Linked DNA regions of Homo sapiens: all the other regions are reported to be linked to region 1. Evidence: microRNA targets listed by miRTarBase, many of them from high-throughput screens and not tested one by one. Region 1 holds a microRNA gene; each other region holds the end of a gene's coding sequence. Distances are from middle to middle.

The links. Region 1 holds the annotated microRNA hsa-miR-4446-5p (AUUUCCCUGCCAUUCCCUUGGC, at 1,901-1,922, opposite strand). A microRNA usually pairs through its seed, bases 2 to 8, with sites in the 3' UTR of a target mRNA and lowers its output. Matches are read on the target gene's strand: a 7mer-m8 pairs with bases 2 to 8, a 7mer-A1 pairs with bases 2 to 7 and ends in A, and an 8mer does both.
Region 2: miRTarBase lists ITPKC as a target of hsa-miR-4446-5p. Seed matches in the 3' UTR shown: 8mer at 1,680-1,687.
Region 3: miRTarBase lists LMLN as a target of hsa-miR-4446-5p. The part of its 3' UTR that is shown has no 7-base or 8-base seed match.
Region 4: miRTarBase lists ARAP2 as a target of hsa-miR-4446-5p. Seed matches in the 3' UTR shown: 8mer at 845-852.

Annotation. Positions count from the first base shown.
Region 1 is chr3:113,593,651-113,596,804 of GRCh38, reverse strand. MIR4446 (microRNA 4446) reads right to left here and starts at 1,929; the gene lies at 1,863-1,929. The region is part of intron 10 of SIDT1 (SID1 transmembrane family member 1); the gene reads right to left.
Region 2 is chr19:40,739,016-40,742,169 of GRCh38, reverse strand. It overlaps ITPKC (inositol-trisphosphate 3-kinase C), which reads right to left. Exons shown (of 7, transcript NM_025194.3): 7 at 1,310-2,813. The coding sequence ends at 2,610. It overlaps ACTMAP (actin maturation protease), which reads left to right. Exons shown (of 6, transcript NM_198476.5): 6 at 1-1,309. Among named protein-coding and RNA genes, the nearest start is that of ACTMAP, 9.9 kb to the left of the region's middle.
Region 3 is chr3:198,038,424-198,041,577 of GRCh38, forward strand. It overlaps LMLN (leishmanolysin like peptidase), which reads left to right. Exons shown (of 17, transcript NM_001136049.3): 17 at 144-3,154. The coding sequence ends at 244. LMLN-AS1 (LMLN antisense RNA 1) reads right to left here and starts at 1,044. Exons shown (of 4, transcript NR_046669.1): 1 at 1,026-1,044; 2 at 724-801; 3 at 325-435; 4 at 1-240.
Region 4 is chr4:36,065,301-36,068,300 of GRCh38, reverse strand. It overlaps ARAP2 (ArfGAP with RhoGAP domain, ankyrin repeat and PH domain 2), which reads left to right. Exons shown (of 33, transcript NM_015230.4): 33 at 23-2,297. The coding sequence ends at 394. It also overlaps the pseudogene LOC651644. Among named protein-coding and RNA genes, the nearest start is that of ARAP2, 180 kb to the left of the region's middle.

The DNA.
Region 1 (3,154 bases):
TTCCTGGTGGCAACTCAAGGGGTCCCAGAGGCCTGTTGGGGAGGCTTCATTATTTTTCTCAGCTGGTAACTGAATTTCTGTAGAGGCTCTTTAACAATGATGTGAAATGTGGGGTTTCTCTCTGATAAAGCCAGTGGAGGAAATGGTTTTAGAGCACAGAGCCTTTCTTAGTACCTCTCAGATTCTCACAGATGCCCTGTCTTTGGTATTAAGGATAATTAGACAATACAGGGTCCAGTCATTCATAGTACAGTAAAAAAGTCCCTTCAAGTCCCCTGGAGCAGCTCTTTGCCAACAGTATTTCCATCTCACCCAGGCTCCAGGGTCTAATCTTCTTCTTCATCCCATGAAGTATGAAATACATTTTTTTGCTTTTTATTATAGTTGGAGCTAACATGGAGATTTTCACATACAGCTTAATTAAATCACTTCAGGCATATCAAAGAAAAACAAATGCAGAGTAGCGCACAGATTTTCTGAGTGCATCCTTCCTAACTCCAACAGAGCTGCCACCAATTTGGCAACCTGTAGGGACCTGATTCCATTTCTTCCACTTCAGTCACGTCTAAGGTGAAAGCCTTAGGCTAAGTTCCACAGATATCTAGCTCCACAATGATGTGGGCAGAGACCGTATTAAGTCTAGTGGGATCCTCTTCCCCTTTAAGAAGCTGCTTCTAGCATTTTCTCTGGATATAAGCACCCAAGGCATTTCCTGTAACTCTGAGCTCCATCGAACTTCCTGTGCCCCATGGTCATGCTGATCCTGGCCTTGGGAGAGAAAGACATTTCTGTATCCTTGTTTCTTCCCTGAATGTCTGTCACTAGCTTCCAGATATGGTCCTTACTTGCCTCTGTCTCTTGCTCCTGGTTGATTTCTCTATGCTCTGTTTGAGATGCCTAAAAAAGTCACTGGTTCTTCCCTTGGGCAGTGCTTGTCTTCTGCTCTTGGTTTAAGCATCTAGGTCTTGACTCACCAGTGGTCATGACATTGGGGGTGATGCCATCATTCCCTGTGGCCTCTCTACCTTACAAAGGTTCCTTATTTTCTTCCTATTTCAAGACTTTTGTGTGGTGAATATTCCTATTCCCTACTTCTTACCTAAGCTGGTGTGTTATTTAGGTGTCTTCATGTGTTTAGGTCCATGGTTCTCAAACAGGGGGATGTGGGGAAAGAGTTTTGCCCCCAAAAAGACATTTGGCAATGTCTGGAGGCTTTTTTTTTTTTTGAGACACGGTCTTGCTCTGTCACCTAAGTTGGAGTGCAGTGGTGCGATCTCAGCTCACTGCAGCCCCAACATCCTGGGCTCAAGCGATCCTCCCATAGCAGCCTCCGAAGTAGCTGGAGCACAGGTGCACACCACCACGCCCACCTAATTTTGTTTATTTTTTGTTTTTATGAAGACGAAGTCTTACTATGTTGCCTAGGCTGGTCTCGAACTCCTAGGCCCAAACAATCCTCCAACCTCGGCCTCCCCAAATGCTGGGATTACAGGCATGAGCAACTGCACCAAGCCTGGAGGCATTTTTAGTTGTCCCAAGGAGGGGCAACTCCTAGAATCTAGTGCACGGAAGTGAAGGATGCTATTAAACATCCTATAAGATACAGAATAGCCCCCAACAACAAAGAATTATCTGGCCTATGATGTCAATAATATTGAGTTTGAGAAACTCTGGTCTTAGAGAAGAGGACCTAATCTTAATTCTGAAAGTAGGTTTATCTGATGTGTAGGTAAATCTGTTCTTTGCAGTGACTGGTTTAACAATAAGTGTATGATTCACTCTAGGCCAATGAAACACAAGAAGTTGCTGAGGGCTTCTTAAAAGGTCCTTCCCTCTGGTGCTGCCAGGTGAAGGTGTGAGCCTTGACCCATGTCACTGCCAGCCCTGGGAGTAAATTGAAGCCAAGGGAATGGCAGGGAAATGGACCAGAGCCACTGGACTCATCAATCCTGAAGTACATCTTTTGGCTCTACTTCCAGAGCTAGGAGTCTCTTTCTTGATTAAGCAGGTTTGAGATTTTTTTTTTCTTGTTGCTGTGGTTACCTACAGCCACATGAATCTCAATGATGCATCTTTACTCTTTTTGGTCACTCATTTGTTTCCGCTTACCATCAGAAGGGTACCTCCAGCTCTTAGCTAATTTTCAGAGCCTCCCTGAACCTGGACAATGATCTGGCTCAAGTCCCAGCTTTGTCCACTTATGCTTCAATGTTCAACAGACCCTTCTGAATGCAGAATTCCTTCAATAAATATTATTATAATAAAAAGACTTCACTCATACTATAAAAAATAACAGACTAACCATTCAGAGGCTACCCAATGGGATTCAATCGATTGGATGTAGGCCTAAGTTCAACTAGGCCTAAACTAATCACAAAACTTGGAGGCACAAAACTTTTTTCCTGTAGGAAAAAAGATGACATCCAGAGAGCAGACAAATTCATTTAAACATCTGACGACTAAAAGGGAGAGGAGCATTTAGCACTTTAAAGCCACGAGAGCAGGTGTTCTTTTATAGTCTTTTATATTGACAGCTGAATGTTTATAAAACAAAGTGCTTGGGTGGCTGGAAAAACAGGCATGCTGACATTAAGGAAGACAAACATTAAAAAGAAAAAAGCAAACTCTCCAGCAAAGGGAGCAATGATCCTGCTGGAGGGGGGTAGGGGGTGAGTTAAAGTCTTTCTAAGATTCTGTGGCCTCATTTAAGTGTGGAAAACACACACCTAAACATCTGCTATGTATGACTTAAAAACCAAGTTCCACTTCATATTCCTCTTTAACCAAATTCTTGCTCTATGCCAAATAACCTATGAGCACTGAGTTTAGGTTTTTCAAAAATGAGGACATTTAAATTTTTAATTTTGTTAAAAAGATCAGGTCATTGAATTCTTTTGTTCAAACTCTCAGAGTGGAGGAAAAGGCATAGTACAATTGCTGGATAGTCAATTACTCTGGATTCCCCCAAGTTATTATACTCTTTATTATACTTGCTAGGGTCAAGTATTTCAGTTTTCTAGACACTTAAGAAAGCCTCCATCTTAGTTTGGGAAAAAGTAAACCATGTATCAGAGTTGGCACAATACATTCTTACTGTTGTTCACAAATCAGCTTTGGGATAGGACAGGTATGAACAATTATGTCCTAGAAAAGG
Region 2 (3,154 bases), not on the chromosome of region 1:
CTAGACATTTGAGGAACCTCCTGCCTGGGCCCTCTGCTTCTCACAGGACAGGGACACTGAACTGCGTCAGCCTCAGCTCACCCCTCCTTAGCCCAAGGTCTTCCTCATGCTTGCCACCTACTAGTCATACTGGCCTTTTAGATCCCTGAAGTGTTGTTCAAATCCCCGGATCATTGAGTCCCACCCCCAGCCCTCTGCTGCGGATCACTCCTTAACTTTTCCATTGGGGCTCAGGTATCACTACCTCAGGGAAGAGTCCTGCAGCCCCAGTCAAGACACCCCTCCCCCACCTCATGTCTTCACAGTTTTAAAGCCCATCTGGGAGCAGTTACCTGTGCCAGCCCCTCTACCTGTGTTAGCAGATCTGGCAACCCTGTAAGGGGGGTGCTAGATGGACCCGATTTGACAGATGGCAAGACTGAGGCCTGGAGAAGTGGAATCACTGGCCTGAGGTCACATGACTAGCACATGGCAAGGTCAGGATTCAAGCTAGGTAGTCAGTATCTCAGCCAGGCTGTCTCCTGGCTCCCTGAACATTATGGTGCTGACCACAAACTTTCCTGTCCACTTATACAAACTTCTAGTGAGTGTGTGTGATTACTAGCTTCATGAATACCTGACCCCTCCACTCTGAAGGAGGAACAGGCCTGTCTGGATCACTTCTCTGTCCCTAACTGAGCCCATCTCATTTAGGGAAACTACAGAGCACTGTTGCTTTTTTTTTTTTTAGATGGAGTCTCGTTCTGTCGTCCAGGCTGGAGTGCGGTGGCGTGATCTCAGCTCACTCCAGCCTCCACTTCCCAGGTTCAAGTGATTCTCCTGCCTCAGCCCCCCAAGTAACTGGGATTACAGGCATGCACCACCATGCCTGGCTAATTTTTTGTATTTTTAGTAGAGACGGGGCTTTGCCATGTTGGCCAGGCTGGTCTCGAACTCCTGACCTTGAGTAATCCACCCGCCTCGGCCTCCCAAAGTGCTGGGATTACAGGTGTGAGCCACTGAGCCCGGCCACAGTGCAGTATTTCTAACCAGTGATCAGGGTAAAGAGGATGCGTGTCCACCATCCCAGCCCTGATCAGCCTGTCTGTGCATCCCCCATCCCAGCCAGGGCTTGGAGCAGCCTTGCTCACCACTGTGTCCCCTGCATTGTAACACATCCAGGCACAAGAATAGCCGCCCAGTGACTGCCAAGTGAGTGAACCAGCCTGCTTGGAGCCTGCCTCTTTCCCAAACTGCTCATTATCCTGTTACCCCACCCAGCCCACGTGTCCAAATACACTCCAGATGCAAAATAAAAAGCTCTACGACATTGGCTCTGAATGTTCTGTTTATTGGGGTGTTGTCATGGGTAGGAGGCTCAGCAGAGCCATTCTGCCTCCTGCTTCCCAGTACTACCCCGTCCAGCAACTGCCTCTCGTATAAATAAGTATCAAGATGGTCAGTAGAAAAGGAGAGCATCTCCTCAGCCCTGGAAGACAGTGTGGGAGCTTCAGCTTAAGGAAGAGGTAGGTGCCTGTCCGCCAGCCCAGCCTCAAGGGCCAGGAAGACCTGGCTATGGGTGCTGGAGGGGCCGTTAGCCACACCCCAGGGTTCTACAGTCTTTGGTTTGGATCAGGCTGCAGGCCAGGGTCCTGGCTGGCAGCCCCACCCACCCTGCGCCTCTGACACACACCCAGCGCTTTTCCCTGCAGGGGCCCGGGATTGGATGGGGCCCTCCTGAGTGCAGCAGCTCTGAGTTGCAAGGGGAGGCCCACTTTCCCAGCCTCTGAACCTCCTTTCTGCCACTGCAGTTTGCTGGGAGAAAGGAGAGAGAAGCCTGGGGGTCAGGCAGGAGGTGTAAGTCCTGAGGCCGGATCTGGTGCACAGAGGAGCGAGGTACTGTCACAGTGCTGGCACAGAAGCTGGGATGTGGCTGTGGTTTGGGTCTGCAGGAGGTCAGCAGAGTCCGCCGAGGAACACGGAGGATCCCACAGGGCCACAGCAGGGCAGGATACCGCCCAGCGGTATCAGCCCTCAGGCCGCATCCAGTCCCATGGGGTCATGCCCTCTGAGCCTCTTGTCGCTCAGCACTCAAATGGCTCCCTGGTGAAGACATGGACTGTCACTCTCCCCAGATGGTCCAGCAGCGCCTGCATCTGTTCACCAATGATGCTGACCCTCTGAGGCGCCACAGATGAGCCTGACCCAGTCCCTGGCCTCAGCCAGCTGGCAGCCTGGAGGCTGACAGGGAGGCAGGTTAGAAGTGATTCATGTGTCCACAGGCACCCTGTCACACCATACCCTGTGACATGTGAACTGAATGCTCTCAGGGCAGCCCCTCAGAAGCCTTCCCGGCAGATCCGGGGACCCCGTTCTGGTTTTTCTGACTCACTGCCTCATCACCTTCCTTCCAGGTCCCCAAAACCCCTGCATCATGATGGGGCCAGGTGCTACCTGGTCTCCCAAGGCCCTTCAGACTTTTCCACGTTGGTCTCGTGTGGCACATGACACAATCTCTCCCGTCCCTGGAGGCCAGCTCCCCCGTGGCCAACCTCAGGCCTCCCATGGCATCTCAGGGCTCCTCCAGCCAGACTGGCGCCATCCAATTAACCTGATGGTGGCTGAGCAGCTCAGCTCTGTGCCAGCCCCTGCAGGAGGCAGATCATGTTGTCCAGGCCCCAGAGGTAGCCGTCCTCACGGTTGCCCTCAGCCCAGGGCAGCCTGTGGCTGAGCGTCTGGTGGTCGGGCAAGGCCACCGTCTTGCCGAAGTCTATCATCCAGACCTTGGCCAGGCCGGTGTGGTCGTGCACGAAGAGGAGGGAGCTGCCTACCACCTGCCGGGGTAGAGACGGGAGGTTAAGGGAGGAGCAGGCACTGGCCAAGGTCCCTTCCTGACAGGCAGCAGAGCAGGGTGATTGACAGCATGAACCCTGGAGCCTGGCTGCCTGATTCATATCCTGGCTGTGCCACCTCCTGTCTGTGCAGCCTTAGGCAGGTGTCTTAACCTCTCTGTGGTTCTGCGTCCTCATATACAAAGTGAGAGTAATACAGTTAGTCTCCCCAGTCCGTGGTTTCATTTTCTTTGGTTTTAGTTACTCTCAGTCAAGTGCGATCCAAAAATATTAAGTGGAAAATTCCAGAAACAAACAATGTGTAAGTTTTAAGTTGCACATTG
Region 3 (3,154 bases), 84 Mb from region 1:
CCTGGGTTTTGCTCTTGATTTAGCTCTCAAGGTGGTCCTTGTTTACTTTTTAATAATCACTGCTCTTCATCTGTCAATATTTAATTGGTATGATTTATCCCAAAATTGTTTATAGAAAGTCAGTTTTTTGTTTTCAACTCTAGATCTTTGTTCCTGTTCCTCGAGCCTGGTGGTCACCCTCTGGCTTCTGCTAGGCAATCTGTTTCCTCTGCTGGCTGGATTTCTTCTGTGTATATGGCACTAGGAATGGAAAAGTGGATCTTCAAGATATTCTTTTATGTTATGTTCTTGTGAACAAAGCACAAAGTTTGAGTGAGTGCCAACCTATGCAGATGGTAGAAGTGGCATTCCTGGCTTTGGCTTGGAAGAATTGACGACCATCAGACCTTGAAGCAGAACTTCACAGCAGCCTGTCCTCATCAGCAACCCAACCACCTTCATCAGCAACCCAACCACCTTCATCAGCAACCCAACCACCTCGTCAGCAACCCAACCACCTCGTCAGCAACCCAACCACCTCGTCAGCAACCCAGCCACCTTCATCAGCAACCCAACCACCTCATCAGCAACCCAGCCACCTTCATCAGCAACCCAACCACCTCATCAGCAAACCAACCACTTTCATCTGCAACCCAACCACTTTCATCAGCAACTCAACACCTTCATCTGCAACCCAACCACCTTCATCAGCAAACCAACCACCTTCTTCAGCAACCCAACCACCTCATCTTGGAGAAGGAGAAGGAACTGCAAGCCACCAAGTCTTCATTTTTCAGGGTTTGTAATCTTCCCAAAGTTTTCCTTTGAAAATAGGATAATGGGTGGAATTTTCAGAGTGATTACATACCTCAACATTTTTATTAACATACAACAATGGGAAAGTTCATCATCCATATACTGCAGTCACTTAAACAACAGCCAATTATTGCAAGATTAGAATTGGAGATCTTGTCCTCAAAAGTATAAATTGTCCTTTGAGTTATAGAAAATAATGGAATTGGGATTTCTACATATCATTATTATACCTATTTTAAATTTAATGGCAGCCAGGCATGGTTCCAGCTACTTGGGAGGCTGAGGCAGGAGGATCGCTTGAGCCCAGGAGTTCAAGGCTGCAGTGAGCTATGATTGCACCACTGTATTCCAGCCTGCACGATAGAGTTAGACCCTGTATCTTAAAAAAAAAAAAATTAATGGCTGGTATATAGTAAACTTAATTCACTGTTCCCATTGTTCTAAAGAATTTTTTTAAATAATGTTTCATTAAATCTTATGATTTAACCGTGCTTGCCCTTTTTGCCAGCTATGTGGCAGTTTACGGCAGAACTGCTGTCAGTGTGCTGGTAGCCCTCTATTCATCCCTCCTCAGAGCCCAGCTTCCAGAACTGCTATCACTGTGCTGGTAGCCCTCTGTATTCATCCCTCTTCAGAGCTCAGCTTCTGGTTGTATTCTCCATGAGTTTAATAATGACATGAAAAAATGTGGAAGCCGAGAGAGTAAAATACTCTGCCCTGTAAAAACATGGAAGACATGCAAACAGAAAAAAAATAATTGTATTGTTTTAGATAATACTTAAGACAACTGTGAAACAACAAAAACACAACTATTCCTTTGTGACCGATGAAGATAAAAAGAAATTCTGGTAAAGACGGGTATGCAGTTTTTTAAAATGGGTTAAGAAATTGTTGCAGAAGAATTTCTAACATCTGAAAATGGTTTTATGTTTAAGAAGGATGGTCTGAATTGTGTACTAATAGCAAGGTATAAGTTTGGTGTAGAGCCTATCCAGTAGCGTCCACTGTACCACTTTTAAGTAAGACTCAGTCCACAGAAGCTGGAAGATTGCCTTCGCTTTAAATATCCTTTACCTTCTGCATTTGACACTCCTCCTGTTACTACATAGATTCCGGTCCCCAGAAGCAATTTTACACTGGTACTAGAGCTTACCAGCCCCATTTAGTAATTTTTAATGGCTAGATGAGGTTTAACAAGAATATGAAAAGAAAAAAGAAAAAATATATTCATGAATGATAGGCGATGCCCATTCTTTCTCTCAAGCTAATGAAGTCCTATGGCATTCTAACCACAACCCTCGGACAGACTCCTCCTATTCCTCCATGGCATTGTAACCACAACCCTCGGACAGACTCCTCCTATTCCTCCATGGCATTGTAACCACAACCCTCGGACAGACTCCTCCTACTCCTCCATGGCATTGTAACCACAACCCTCGGACAGACTCCTCCTACTCCTCCATGGCATTGTAACCACAACCCTCGGACAGACTCCTCCTACTCCTCCATGGCATTGTAACCACAACCCTCGGACAGACTCCTCCTATTCCTCCATGGCATTGTAACCACAACCCTCGGACAGACTCCTCCTATTCCTCCATGGCATTGTAACCACAACCCTCGGACAGACTCCTCCTATTCCTCCATGGCATTGTAACCACAACCCTCGGACAGACTCCTATTCCTCCATGGCATTGTAACCACAACCCTCGGACAGACTCCTCCTATTCCTCCATGGCATTGTAACCACAACCCTCGGACAGACTCCTTCTGTTCCTCCTTTCCTCGTCCTTCCCTGCTTTTCGTCCATTCAGCATATAGCTATTCAGTACTCCATTGAAGAAATTATGCTAAGTGAGCAAAGCAACATAATTACTAAGAATTAATTCTGATTATTTGGCACTAGAGCCAACAGCAACCCCAGCACAGAGGAAAGTCGCTTTTTTTTCAAATGCATAAATTTAAAGTATGTATTTGCATGCAGTTTTAAATGGGAGGTATTTGTCATTGTGAAAAGCTGGGAATCTCAAACATAGTCAACTTAACTAAAAAGAAGCTAATACAGGTTGAGCATTCCTAATCCAAAAATCCAGAATCCAAATTGCTCCAAAATCTGAAACTTTCTGAATGCTGACCTGATACTACAAGTAGAAAATTCCACATACAAGTACTTAACACAAACTTTGTTTCATGCACAAACTACTAAAAATATTGTATAAAATTACCTTCAGGCAGTGTGTGTAGTTATATATGAAACATGAATTTCATGTTTAGACTTGGGTCCATGCCCAAGATACCTCATTAGGTATCTGTAAATATCCGAAATCCAAAAAAAAGTCTGAAATCTGAAACACTTCTG
Region 4 (3,000 bases), not on the chromosome of region 1:
AGACATTTAATTTTATTTTTAGAGTGCAAGAGCAGAACTTGAAAGGCTGCGGCTCAGTGAAAAGTGTGATAAAGAGTCCGTGGACTCTAGCTTAAAGGAGAGAGCTTCCATGGTGGCCCACTGCCTGGAGCACAAGGACGATAAACTTCGAAATCGACCCCGAAAACATCGGAGTTTCAACTGCCTGGAGGACACAGAGCCTGAAGCCCCACTTGGGCAACCAAAAGGCCATAAAGGCCTAAAGACATTGAGGAAGACTGAGGACAGGAATAGCAAAGCTACTTTGGACTCTGATCATAAGTTACCATCAAGGGTAATTGAAGAACTTAATGTGGTTCTACAACGGTCAAGAACCCTTCCAAAAGAATTACAGGATGAGCAGATTTTGAAGTAGGAAATAAAATGAATTGCTCCCCAGATTATTTTTTTAATATTGTATGCAATCTTTATGTGTAACTCCAAAACTGAACTATAAGATAATTCATAAGAATTTGCCTATTGATAGGCAAATTTGTCTATGCTTAGGCATTTAAGGAGCATTTAAAAATATGTATATATGTGACTGAATGTAAGATTAACTTTATTTTGGTCTGAACAAACCTTGTAAAGTTCCATTGTATTAACGTGTGTAAGAAGACATTGGGTTACTTAGGTGGTCAGTCCTTTTAAAGTAGTTGTCTGTTAAGTGGTATAATTTATGAGCAGAAATCTCAAACTGTACTGTATTGTATAAAATGCTGTGTTTAAATGAAGCCTAAGAAACTATCTGTAACATATTTTGCACTTTGAGAAACCTTGTATATTAAATTACCATATGTTTTTAGGTTTACAGAAGTTCTACCTTAGGGAAAAGAAAGGGAAGTAAATTGAAAAAGGGGGGAGAATTTATTGTAGTGGCTGCCTAAAAACCACTGGAGTTTTTAAAAGAAGCAAGGAGTTAAATGTCCTGCAAAACAAGGAAGTGAGCTAAGATTCATTCTAGTTCACTAATGACCAGAACTTGTCAATGAGAAACCACTTGTTAAGAAAAAGTCCAGTGTTTATTTCTCAAGAGTAATATTCGGCCAACAGATGTAAATAATAGCACTAGCCACTCTTATTAATATTTATAGTGTTAGAAAACCAGCCACATTACAGATTCACTACGTTTGAGCTCATTGTTGGTGGCTGCTAAGAGGAAACTTACACTGCATTGGAGAGGTTGTGTACACAGGACCTGGCCTGGATGCTGATTGCACTGTCATTGTATGCAAGCATTTTGTCTTTTTTCAGAATTTCTGACTATACTTTTGGTACGAACAAAATTCATCACCACAGGGTCCTGTTGTTTTGTTTGATTTTTAGATTTTTTTAAATTATTATTAAGGTTGTAATGTTTTTCTCCGAGTTGTCAGAAATAACTGGAAGAATACAATATATGGCCATTATGGAGCCAGGGGCTAGTTGGTGGTTTACTATACATTTGGGGGCTACCTGGTCACATTTAATCTAGGTTTTTTTTTCTTTTTTTAAGTAAAGGTGTGGTCTCTTCCCTGTACTTATGAATAAGGACAAAGCCCTATTTTTGTTTCCACATAAAGATCAGCTACTGAATTGGTGAATTTCCTGACAGACAATGCTATCTAACCATAGTTCATGTTAGGGGAAGCATTTTTCCATCAGTTTCTTTAAAATTGGATTGTCTGGTGAGTTTTGATATTAAACATTATGTAGCTAAGTTTTTTTTTTTTAGCATTTCTTTTTTATTTTTCAATCTATATTCACAGGCCCATACTTCAGTCAGTCCAATCATAGTACAGTGATGTGGTGGTAGATGCTATGAATTTCTTCATTGTAAAATACGGATCATTTGTATTTTGGGGTGATAAAATAGTTCACCATGGGTATGAGATATTTATTCTTTAAATCAAAGTAAATTAGAATTTTTAAAAAGCACAAAACTGCAGGACAGTTTATGAAATAGGTGGCACTATTAGGGAATCTTCCTTTAAAGCAAGAAATCATGTTATTTAGAAAGAAAAACTAATCTTAAACATACTATTTCTAATAAATATTTATATTTTTATGAAATAAAGAGGTATGTGGAAATTAATATTTGGTGATGTTGGACAGTGGAAAAGTATCTAGAGTTTTTACCTGCCTTATCTGAATTCTTCTTGAAACTTGAGCTTAAACTCTAATAGCTGTTTCCCTTTCTATTCTGAACAACTGTCTCCATTTTTCAAGTGTGAGAGATAAGGGCTAATGATGACATCTCATTTATTTTGAGTAAACATTAAAATTGTTTTACAAGTCTACTTGAATGTGACTTTATTATTTTCAGAAGTTGAAGGTTGTTATTGTGAAATAGATCAAATAGATTAGCTTTCTTTTCTTTTTAAAAAAATTTGAATTTAATATATACTTCAAACTGGCTGTATTGTTTTTCCAAACAGGTCACTGTAAGTAGCTTTATTTATTTAAAGACCCACTTGCTGAGAACCAGGCACAATTACAGGCTCTGTGGCCTGTATTGACGAGAAGCTGCTGACCAGCCACATCCCTACAAGATGCATAGTACCACCCCTGGTTTATAGGCATCTCTGCCAGCCTTGCCACACCATGAGAAGGCCAAGGGACTGGCACAAGTGTCTGGCACCTCAGCAGTGCCACTTGGTCATTCATGAGCAGTCCCTCATGTTCAGGAACAGTGCCTGTCACCCAGGCCACTTCAGCTGCATCCACTGTAGGAAGGAGCTGACTGGTGAGGCCCATGAGCTGAAGGGTGAACTCTACTGCCTGCCCTGCATTGACAAGATGCTGTCCCCATTTCTAGGGACTGCAGCCAGCCCATCAAAGGCCACATAGTGAATACACTGGGCAAAGAGTGGTGGCATGCAGAGCTCTTTTCCCTGAGTGTGAGAAGCCATTCCTGGGGCCCTGGCACTATGAGAAGAAGGGCCTGGCCTACTTTGAGATCCACTACAGCCAGCTCTTTGGGACATCTGCTGTAGCTGCAGC